Linked DNA regions of Homo sapiens. The protein of the gene in region 1 purifies or fractionates together with the protein of each later gene. This does not show direct contact. Each region holds a gene or a part of one and is shown on either strand. Other genes may lie near its edges. The genes, in order: SNX11, PML and STK40.

What was found.
Region 2: the proteins of SNX11 (region 1) and PML purify together in Homo sapiens (affinity purification with mass spectrometry; 4 studies listed by BioGRID and IntAct, with this or other methods). This does not show direct contact.
Region 3: the proteins of SNX11 (region 1) and STK40 purify together in Homo sapiens (affinity purification with mass spectrometry; 3 studies listed by BioGRID and IntAct, with this or other methods). This does not show direct contact.

What each region holds. Positions count from the first base shown.
Region 1 is NC_000017.11:48,117,699-48,121,015, forward strand, and holds part of SNX11 (sorting nexin-11), read left to right. Parts: intron 1-1,005; coding exon 1,006-1,101; intron 1,102-1,275; coding exon 1,276-1,488; intron 1,489-3,317. UniProt on the Homo sapiens protein: Phosphoinositide-binding protein involved in protein sorting and membrane trafficking in endosomes. Regulates the levels of TRPV3 by promoting its trafficking from the cell membrane to lysosome for degradation.
Region 2 is NC_000015.10:74,039,709-74,043,357, forward strand, and holds part of PML (protein PML), read left to right. Parts: intron 1-3,280; coding exon 3,281-3,431; coding exon of another isoform or gene 3,432-3,472; exon of another isoform or gene 3,473-3,630; intron 3,631-3,649.
Region 3 is NC_000001.11:36,347,852-36,351,500, reverse strand, and holds part of STK40 (serine/threonine-protein kinase 40), read left to right. Parts: intron 1-2,685; coding exon 2,686-2,801; intron 2,802-3,649. UniProt on the Homo sapiens protein: May be a negative regulator of NF-kappa-B and p53-mediated gene transcription.

The DNA.
Region 1 (3,317 bases):
GGTTTCATAAACAACATAGTGTGGCTCGGCTTGGTGGCTCACACATGTAATTCCAGTGCTTTGGGAGGTTAAGGAAGGAGGATCACTTGAGGCCAGGAGTTTGAGACCAGCCTGGGCAACAGAGCAATACTGTCTCTACAGATACATAAGTAAACAAATAAATAAATTAGGTGCACACAGTGGCACGTACCGGTAGTCATAGTTATTCTGGGAGGCTGATGCAGGAGGATTACTTCATCCCAGGAATTTGAGGCTGCGGCGAGCTATGCTCACGTTTATGCTACTGCACTCCAGCCTGGGCAACCTGGAGAGAGCAGCTTGGAAAGCAATACCTTGTCTCTAAAATCAAACAGACAAAAATAATGTATCAGCATGGGTTTTATAGTCATAGATCTGGTTCTGATATGAGCTTTGCTGCTTATTAGCTGTGTAACAGTGAGACATTTACTTAACTTCTCTGATCTGAAGTGAGTTAATATCTTTCTCACGGGGTTTTGGGATGACTAAATGAAATCATGTTTATAAAACATTTAGCACAGTCTGGCTTGACACTTGGCATGCAGTCAATGTTAGCACCACCCCTTATTAAAAGCTAATTGGGGCCAGGCACGGTGGCTCATGCCTGTAATCCCAGCACTTTGGGAGGCCGAGGCAGGCAGGGATCACGAGGTCAGATCAAGACCATCCTGGCTAACATGGTGAAACCCCGTCTCTATTAAAAATACAAAAAATTAGCTGGGTGTGGTGGCCTGCACCTGTAATCCCAGTTACTCGGGAGGCTGAGGCAGAGAACTGCTTGAACCCGGGAGGCAGACGTTGCAGTAAGCCGAGATTGTACCACTGCACTTCAGCCTGGGCGACAGAGCGAGACTCCATCTCAAAAAAAAAAAAAAAAGCTATTTGTATTGATTAGACCTCTTTTTAAGGGATTTCCTTGATCAGAGGCCGGAATGACTATCTTAGATGTTACACTTATCATGGGTGTTATATCATGTGGCTGCACAGGCCTGTTCCTGAACTTCCTGGGAAGTCAACCTTCTTCGGCACCTCAGATGAGTTCATTGAGAAGCGACGACAAGGTCTGCAGCACTTCCTTGAAAAGTGAGTGGACAGAACGGCTGGTGCTGGCCACCAAGGGTGGAGGCAGGGGTGGAGGAATGTGCCAGGCAGGATGGAGCTCCCTGCTCAGGTAGCCAGAAGTTCTTAAGAGGATGGGGAATGGAGAGCAGTTCCTCAGGGTGATGCTCTGTGTTGTGCTACCTGTGTTTTTCCCAGGGTCCTGCAGAGTGTGGTTCTCCTGTCAGACAGCCAGTTGCACCTATTCCTGCAAAGCCAGCTCTCGGTGCCTGAGATAGAAGCCTGTGTCCAGGGCCGAAGTACCATGACTGTGTCTGATGCCATTCTTCGATATGCTATGTCAAACTGTGGCTGGGCCCAGGAAGAGAGGCAGAGCTCTTCTCACCTGGCTAAAGGAGACCAGCCTAAGAGGTAACTGGAGTACTCTTTGAGATAGCAGGGGCTAGGTTTGCTATAACCTGGACCAGAGAGGTGTCCATTTGTTAGGGAAAGTAATGTCATAGCATTGGTAGCCTTTCACAACCTTTCTTGTTCTTTGGGTGCGTGGCTTTCTATCCAGGTGGGTCTGTGTTAACCCACCACTGGGTAGCAGGGGCTCCTACTGAAACCTGGGGAGAAAGAAGGGAAAGCTTTCTCATTTATTCGGTTTTTTATTCCTCCTCCCTCCCTTTTTATTTATTTATTTTTTTGTGTGGAGACGGACGCTCACTCTTTCACCCAGGCTGGAGTGCAGTGGCGTGATCTCGGCTCACTGCAACCTCTGCCTCCTGGGTTCAAGCGATTCTCCTGCCTCAGCTTCCTGAGTAGCTGGGATTACAGGCAAGTGCCACCACACCTGGCTAAGTTTTGTATTTTTAGTAGAGACGGGATTTTGCCATGTTGGCCAGGCTGGTCTCAAACACCTGACCTTAGGTGATCCGCCTGCCTCTGCCTCCCAAAGTGCTAGGATTATTGGCATAAGCCTGGCCTAATAGCTTTATTGACACACAATTTACCTGCCATAAAGTTTACCTTTTTAGATACAGTTCAGTAGTTTTTAATATAGTCACAGGGTTGTATAACTGTCAGCCACCACAGTCAATTTTAGAACATTTTCATCACCCCGAAAGAAACCCTGTACCCATGAGTAGTGACTCCCCTGTCCTTCCCTCCCCCCCAGCTCCTGGCAACCACTAGTCTACTTTCTCTGTCTATGCATTTGTCTATTTTGGACATTTACACAAATGGAGTCATATGATTTGTGGTCTTTTGTAACTGGCTTTTTTCATCTAACAATGTTTTCAAGGTTCATTTGTATTTTATCATGTGTCATTACTTCATTACTGTTTTTTTCTCTTTTTTTCCCCCATTTTTATGGCTAAATAGCAGTCCATTTATATGGTGCTATATACCACATTTTGTTTATCCATTCACTTGCATTTATCTGTTTTTTTTTTTTTTTTTTTTTTTGAGACAGAGTCTTGCTCTGTTACCCAGGCTGGAATGCAGTGGCATGATCTCGGCTCACTGCAACCTCCGCCTCCCAGGTTCAAGCAACTCTTCTGCCTCAGCCTCCCTAGTAGCTGGGATTACAGGCACCTGCCACCACACCCAGCTAAGTTTTTGTATTTTTAGTAGAGATAGGGTTTCACCATGTTGGCCAGGCTGGTCTCGAACTCCTGACCTCAGGTGATCCACCCGTTTCAGCCTCCCAAAGTGCTGGGATTACAGGTGTGAGCCATCGCACCTGGCCTTTTTTTTTTTTTTTTTTTTGAGATGGAGTCTTGCTCTGTTGCCCAGGCTGGAGTGCAGTGGCACGATTCAGCTCACTGCAAGCTCTGCCTCCCGGGTTCACACCATTCTCCTGCCTCAGCCTCCCGAGTAGCTGGGACTACAGGCGCCCGCCACCATGCCCGGCTAATTTTTTTTGTATTTTTAGTAGAGACGGGGTTTCACCGTGTTAGCCAGGATGGCCTCCATCTCCTGACCTCGTGATCTGCCCACCTCGGTCTCCCAAAGTGCTGGGATTACAGGCGTGAGCCACCACGCCCGGCCTCTTTTTTATTTTTTTAAATTGAGATAGGGTTTCACCAGGTTACCCAGGTTGGTCTCCACCTCCCAGACTCAAATAATTCACCATGCCCAGCCATTTTTTTTTTTTTTAATCGGGCAGCCTCCTGAGTCAGAACAGGCTCAGAGAGACTTCCCTTTCTGTTCATTTTTGTTTATATGTTCATACTTTTTTTTCTGAGACAGAGTCT
Region 2 (3,649 bases), on another chromosome or scaffold:
CTATGAATGCCTAACCAAAGTCAAGAACCACTGAATCGGGGGATTCATTGCATGTCTGTGGTAGAGGAATGCTGCTCATTTGTTTATAGATGTGGCAGTCTTGAATGCAGGTGACATTTTCATACCAGGGTGTAATACCGCAGAGGAGGGGAGAGGCTGGATCTTCCCTGATGTACCTCCTGGACTTTTGGAGTGTGATTACAATGCCAATCCAGCCACTTCCTCTGAGCATGCTTGGGACGACTGTTAGACCTGCTGTGTTGAGTTAGAATGCACTTGACCTGCTCAGGCCGTGAAATCTATGAGGAAGGGGAGTGAGATGGATGTAGCTCATGAGCCAGATTGCAGGTGTATCCAAGTTGCATGTATATCCTGAAAAAATCCTGGCTCTCACGAGGCTCAGCCTGAACACAGTTTTGCATTCAAAGAAACAATGTCCATTAACCAAGTATAATAAAGAAATAAATCCCAGTATTTACTTGCATCTTTTGAAAGAACATTAAAGGGAATCCAGCTCATAACCCCAGCAGCACTTCTTCAGTCCTTCTTCCCCTTTTCTTTGGCGCCTGGCATCTCTCACTGCATAGCAAAGCTTTCCCCCTTGATTCCCGGTCCTCACACGCAGGCTCAAGGCTCTGTTTCCCATCTTCTTTCTTCTGTCCCCCTTCCTTTTCTCTTCCAAGCAAATCTAAGTCTTTTCCAGTGACTGTCCCTCTCTATGCTCCCCCGACACCCAGTTATCCTAATTTGCGGAATAAGGCCAAGGTGTGGGGCCTGGGGGCAGAATGGGAGAGTCTCCCCTAGTGAGCAGGGAGGGGAGTATGTTCTGCACCAGGCCACTATGTCTGATGGCCCTGCTGGCAAACCTGAGTCTTTCAGAAAGTCTTGTTTAAATGCGTCAGCACTCCCCAGCTGTGATGCTGGAGTTTAAGGCGGAGCAGGGGAGAATTCTGGGTTTACAGCTGGCTGGAGTTCCAGTGAGACCAGCTCCATGGGTGGCCATACTTTATGGAAGTCCCCAAGGGCAAGAGGAATTTTGGAGGAAGTGAGTCAGGGCTGAAAGGTCCAGCCTCTCCTCCATTAACAAGCTTGGTGGAAAGGGGGTGTCCTTTTATTAAAGGAGACAGTAGAGGTTTCTTAGAGAAGGCAGCTCGAGTAAGTTTAGGACAAAGGACATTTCCCTGGCCCCGGGACAATGGAAGGCTCTAAAAACGAGGTTCTAGTGGCTGCCATAAATGACCCTGCTGTAACGATGGGAGGGGTGGCCTAAAGAGACAGTACTGTGGCTCTCCAGGGAGCTCTCCTCTTGGAAGAGCAGATCTGAAGGCGGGAAGACTGGTTCTAAGGCCGAGGACATTGCCCCGAGCTTTGTGGAGGCACTCAGGAACACAAAGGGGCATTTCCAGTTGGGTTTGGAGCAGGAAGAAGAACGAAAAAGAGAAAGTCCTGTGTGCCATGTCAGTGGGTGGCAGCATGGACTCAGCCTCAGCTATTGGCACCAAGGATCTGAACCAGGGAGGACCCAGAAGGGGAGCCCAGCCCCTCCACCAGCTTGTGGGAGAGCGCTGCTGCCCAGTGAAGCCTGGAGAGAGGAAACAACTGGATTCTCCCAAAGCGGGAGAAGGTGGAGTCTCCAGCCACCCAGCTACAAGCTAGGAAGACGCCTTGTAGAAGGCTCCTTACAGGGAGGAAACCGAGTTGGAAAGGCGAGACAGCAGTGTGGGCTCACCCGGAGCAAGACGTGTGAAATCAGCTTTTGACAGCGTGGCTGAATGAGGATCTGGAGATGCGAGGCGCTGGGCAGACTCTCTGACTAGATCCCTGGATATGAAGAGGCAAAGCCAGCTCTAGATGGATTCATAGTGAGTGTCTGCTTCTGACAATAACTGGCAGAAAGCTGATGAGCCTGGAGCAGGGCTGTGAAATGCAAATCCAGTGAAATCCAGCCACTCCTACAAAAACCCACCACATCTTAGGTTACTTGTGGGTGGAAACGCTTTTTCTCTCAGTTGAAGCTTGGTTGGAAGCAGATGTTTCACTTGGGCATTGGAAGGGTCTGGGGAAATGTGCTGCCTCCTAGGCCAGGGACATTAGCCAGAGGCCAGAATTAACTGAGGCTTTAGCACCAGGTGACACCAACTTCATTGAGAAGCCAGCGGCAGTCCATAAAGAGGAAAAACCCAAGGCCTGCCCTGGACTCTGTCCCAGCCATGCTCCCAATTGGCCCTGTGATCCTGTCCATGTCTCTTCCTTGCTGGTCTCTGGCTAACGTCCACAGGTGGCATTCATGGGAGGTTCCAAGTTGGTCATCAAAGACTAAACATCTGGGCTTGGCAGCTGAGCAGATGATAAGCAATTAACTCTGTATTACCATCAGAGGCTCCACCTCCCTCTGTAGTCCCAGTCCCTTGGGAAAATCTCAGAGCTGGAGCCCTTCCCTCATCCTCTGGCTCCCCACCCCATGGCTTCTCGAACAGTGTTCCCACCAGGACCTTGGGACAGGAGAGAACGCCTCACCTGAAGGACTCCCAAAACTCAGGTTTCTCTAAGCTGCTGGGGCAGATGCCAAGAGCCTCCACTGCTCTCTCACTGCCAAGGACCTGGGTGTCCACCTAGATGTGGCCTTCAGGAGGCCAAGCAGTCCTTCCCCTCGCCTTTGTGTAGGACACTGGCACCTCGGCTGACTTCGGGGACAAGAAAAGGCAGGCTCCCGACCCCTTCCAAAGAATCATCTGGGGTTCAAGATGAGGCTTCTTTCTCCCGTCCCAAGTTTTGGTGTTTCTTCTGAGTCTGCTCAGAAAGATGAAATTAGGAGCAGACATCTCAGGTCCTGCCTGCCATAGCAGATGGCTCCTTCCCTGAGCCTCCATAAGCAGCACAGCACACTCATGCACACACCCACTGGCATTTTCTCTCACACTTTCATACACTTGTGTCAACGCAGGTTCACAGCTCACACTTAACTGTGCATGCACACACAGATTTAGCACTTGGATTCATTCCCACACATGCACGTTCACAACCTGTGTGTGTCACCCTTCCTCCCCTACTCATGAGGGTGTATGCCCTGGTTCATACATGTAACCCTCACATGTGACACACCCAGTTCACACCCATTCATGCACACATACCTTCTCTTGTGCACACGTCCCCTTTCCCAGTGGTACACCCTCCTTCATGTGCACGCAGATGCTCCCAGCTATACCAGCTTGCTAGTGTTCTGCACAGGTGCTTGCCTTGGCCCTCTGAATCCCTGACGCTTGGTTTTTCTGTGTTGCAGTCCTCCCGAGAGCTGGATGACAGCAGCAGTGAGTCCAGTGACCTCCAGCTGGAAGGCCCCAGCACCCTCAGGGTCCTGGACGAGAACCTTGCTGACCCCCAAGCAGAAGACAGACCTCTGGTTTTCTTTGACCTCAAGATTGACAATGAAAGTGGGTTCTCCTGGGGCTACCCCCACCCCTTTCTAATTTAGTCTCTGAGTCCCAAAAAGAAGTGCAGGCAGAGCCATCTGCCAGGCCCAGGAGAGCTCTGAGCTCTGGCCAACAACTGCAGCCAGGCTGGGCAGAGCACTCCGGCTCACCTGGGCTCCTGGCGTGTCATTTGCTGGCTTGAATAAAGATGTCCGCCTTATCCAGTGCCTGAGTGTGCG
Region 3 (3,649 bases), on another chromosome or scaffold:
GTGCAGAGAGACTCACTGCTCCGTGTGTGTCCTCTGGCACACCCTCCGCTCTGGGGCCCCACTCTCACCTCGTTCAGTTGACCTGAAGGAGCTCCAGCCCACTCCAGCCCCTTCCCACCCATCATGCCAGGCTATAACTCCACTGGAGCAGTAGGCGGACCAGCTGGAGGCCTTCTCAGCAGAGCAGAGAGCTCTCAAGGAGCAGACAGGGGGAGGTGTTGGCAAGGCAGCTGCAACAACAAGTTCACCCCGCTTTGGATTTTAAAAGGATCGAAATTCGAAATCCTCTTCTGGGGTTATGTGAGGTGCTGTGGGGTCTTTTTCCTTCCTCCTTTCTTTTTGGTAGGCAAGCAACATACCAAGTTCCTAGAAAAGGAGAAAAACACTGTGGCAGCCCAGAGGGCCATAGCTAAAGCGTGACTCACTCAGAGCCGATCCTACTGACACACGTCCCCTCCCTCCGTCCCACTCTGCCATTGCCCCCTCCTGTCAGGACCAGACTAGGGGGTCTGGGACTCCCGGGGAGCCATGCACCCCCCACTTGGGTGGTGGTGGCAGGGCAGGGGAGTGTTGCCAAACCTCAGGAGGACTTGGAGCTGCCCGTGCCACTTCCTGTGGAGAGACTCCAGTGCGCCTGCCGCTCAGCCCTGCAGAGCCTCAGCTGTGCCTGCCCGTGCCCTGGCAGAGGGTGGGAAAGTCCCACCAGCAGTGTTGAGTTGAAAGCTCAGCCACACTGGCATGTGCTCTCCGGGGCCTGTTGTCACACCATGGCACCTCTCCCCTACCGCCTCCAAGACAGAGTCTTTTCCTACCAGGTGTGCCAACCATCGGAGATGAGAGGACACCAGCTTCTACTATTTGCCAGGCATTGGGCTAAGTGCCCTCCATGAGATTATCTTATCTTGCTGAATCCTAACCCAGTTCTGGAGTTTGGTGCTGGGATTTCACTGTTGTACGCATGAGGAAATTGAGGTTTAGCAAGAGATTCACAGAGCAAGGAAGTGGCAGAGCCAGGACTAGGAACCTGGCTCCCAAACCCACCGTACTTTCTCCTGAGCTGTCCTCCTCTCAGCGTCTTGAGCCTCAGAGACCCACAGGATGCATTTGCAGCTTCCGCGGCCATCTCTGACCAGGGGAGAAAACCCACAGTGCCTCTGCTCTGTGGGAACCTTCTGGACAAGAGGCCCGAGCAGCCCCATATTCAGGGCAGCGGCACTGGAGCTTCAGAGCTAGAGCAGCCCACTCCTTGACGTGCAAGTGACCCTTTGCAGTGACCCTTCACCTGTGCGATCAGGCTCTAGCCGCCTGCGGGCCACCAGTCAGACTCCTATGGCAGCTGACAGGGCGGACCTGTATAGGCGCTGGAGTTGGCGTTTCCGTGGGGAATCCAGAGGACGGGCTGGCCTTTGTTTTGCATCGAGCCCTTTGCCAGCAGAATTCCCCGAGATCACCGAGGGCTCTCAGAGCCGCCTGGATGCGGCTCCCGGGGAAATCCGCCAGCAGCCACACATGCCCTCTGCCTCTGAGAGCTGATTGTAGGGAGAGGCAGCCCAAGGCCCCCATGGAGCTCTCCTTCCTGTTGTCCTCCCAGCTTCTCCCCCTAGCTTCTCCACCCAGCCAGCCGACACAGGAGCAGGGCAGTTGGGTAGAGAGGCATCCTTCCTCACTGCCTGCCCCAGTGGGCCAGGAAACCTTTCCCAGGCCTCTTAGACAGGGCCTGCCCACCCTCCCAGCCCCCAGTGTGGTGTAAGGTGTAAGGGTCCTCTCGGGGCACTTCCTTTTGTCCACATGTGAGTTTTCTCCAAAGGATCAGAGCCCAAAGCTGCCCTGCCCCACGCCTTTCAGAGGGAGGGTCTGTGATGTTCTAGCCAGGGCAGAGTCACAAGTACGAGGTAAGGGATGAGTCAGCTTTGATGGAACAGAAGGAAAAGTCATTCGGGGCCTGGGGCCCTGCCCAGGGACACATCTGGGCATGAGGCAGCTGTCAGTTGTGTGTGCAGCTCTGGGGCCCTGCAGACCTGGTCTTGGATCCTGCTCTTCTGCTCACCAGCTGCATGACCTTGGCCAAGTCCTTTCACTTCCCTGTGCCTTTGTTGTATCATCTGAAACAGGACCGTGAGAAAATCCCCCTCATTGGCCACTGTCAGTTTCTTCCTCTGCAGTGGTTGTGGGGCCAAGTGAGAACTGACATATTCCGTGGTTCGGAGGTGGCTCGGGGCCAGCCCTTGGGTCACCTTCCAAGGTGGAGTCACTCACCTCTGCTGGACTTCCTTTTCCTCATGTGTGAATGAGGAAATTGAACTAAATCTCAGGTCACTCCCAGTCTAGAATATTACGTGAGGCTGTTTTTGAGAAATCTCTGAAAGTTGTTCTAAGCCCTAAGCTGTACCCCGAGATTCAGCCCGGGCAGCAGGTCCAGGGATGGCCTGTGCAACACTCAGATACCTGGGAGAGAAGCCGATCCCTGCTGGGACAGCTCGGCTGGTGGCCAGAAAAGTCTGGGGCCTGATTCCTCTGCTCTGCTCCCTGGAGAGGGGGTCGGGGCAGCTGCTTCACCCTCTGACGAGAAGCCTACCTCCTACTGTTCAGGATTGGGTGTTGGCCCAGTGAGGTGTGTCCTGCCTGCGTGTCTTGTGCCTGTTGCTATAGACACTGAGGTTTGTTCACTCTGTCTCCCACTCCTAGGACACATCGGATAACCATCACCAACTTCTGCCTCGGGAAGCATCTGGTGAGCGAGGGGGACCTGCTGAAGGACCAGAGAGGGAGCCCTGCCTACATCAGTCCCGACGTGCTCAGCGGTACGTGTGTGTGCCAGACATTGGGCCTCTAAGCTCAATACAGCCAGGCTCTGTGACAGTCCACTCAGCAAATTTGTGGGCAGGCCCTGGGCAAGGTGCTGGGGCTTCACTGGGGGCCCAGACCAGTACTGTCCCTCCCCATACAAAATGTTTGGTCTGTTGGAGGTGGAAGACGTAATGATAACATGAATGCATGTTTAATTCCTCTGAGGTTAGTGCTAGGGAGGAACGGGATTGCTGTGAGAGTGGATGAAGGGTGCTTGGAGGACTTTCCCCACAAGGTGTGACAGTTGAGCTATGATCTTAAGGGAAACTAGGAATTCCCTGGGTATGTGTGACTAGGCTGAGGCTGAGGGTCCCAGAGGCAGCACAGCACGTTGGAGCAATTGCAGGCTGCTCAGAAAGTGAGCCTGGTTCAAGGGGAAGCCAGAGAGGTGCGCAGGGGCCAGATCAGGCAAGGCCTGACATAGGCCTCAGTAAGAGATGTCATCCTTTACTTCAAGTGCGAGTGGAAGCCATTGAACAGTTCTTAACTGAGTGTGCTGCTGTGAGTTTGTGTTTCAGAGCCCTCTCTCCTTGTCTGTGTTCATTCATTCTGTTACTGTTTGCTGAGGGCCACCCAGGCCCAAAGCTCTGTTCTAGACACTTTGGAGACAACAGGGAACAAAGTAGACAAACATTGCTGCCTTCATGGAGCTGACTTTCTAGTGGGGATGAGACAGATAATACACGAAACAAATAAGTAACTCACAGGCCGGGTGCAGTGGCTCATGCCTGTAATCCCAACACTTTGGGAGGCTGTGGCGGGATCATAAGGTCAGGAGTTCGAGACCAGCCTGGCCAATATG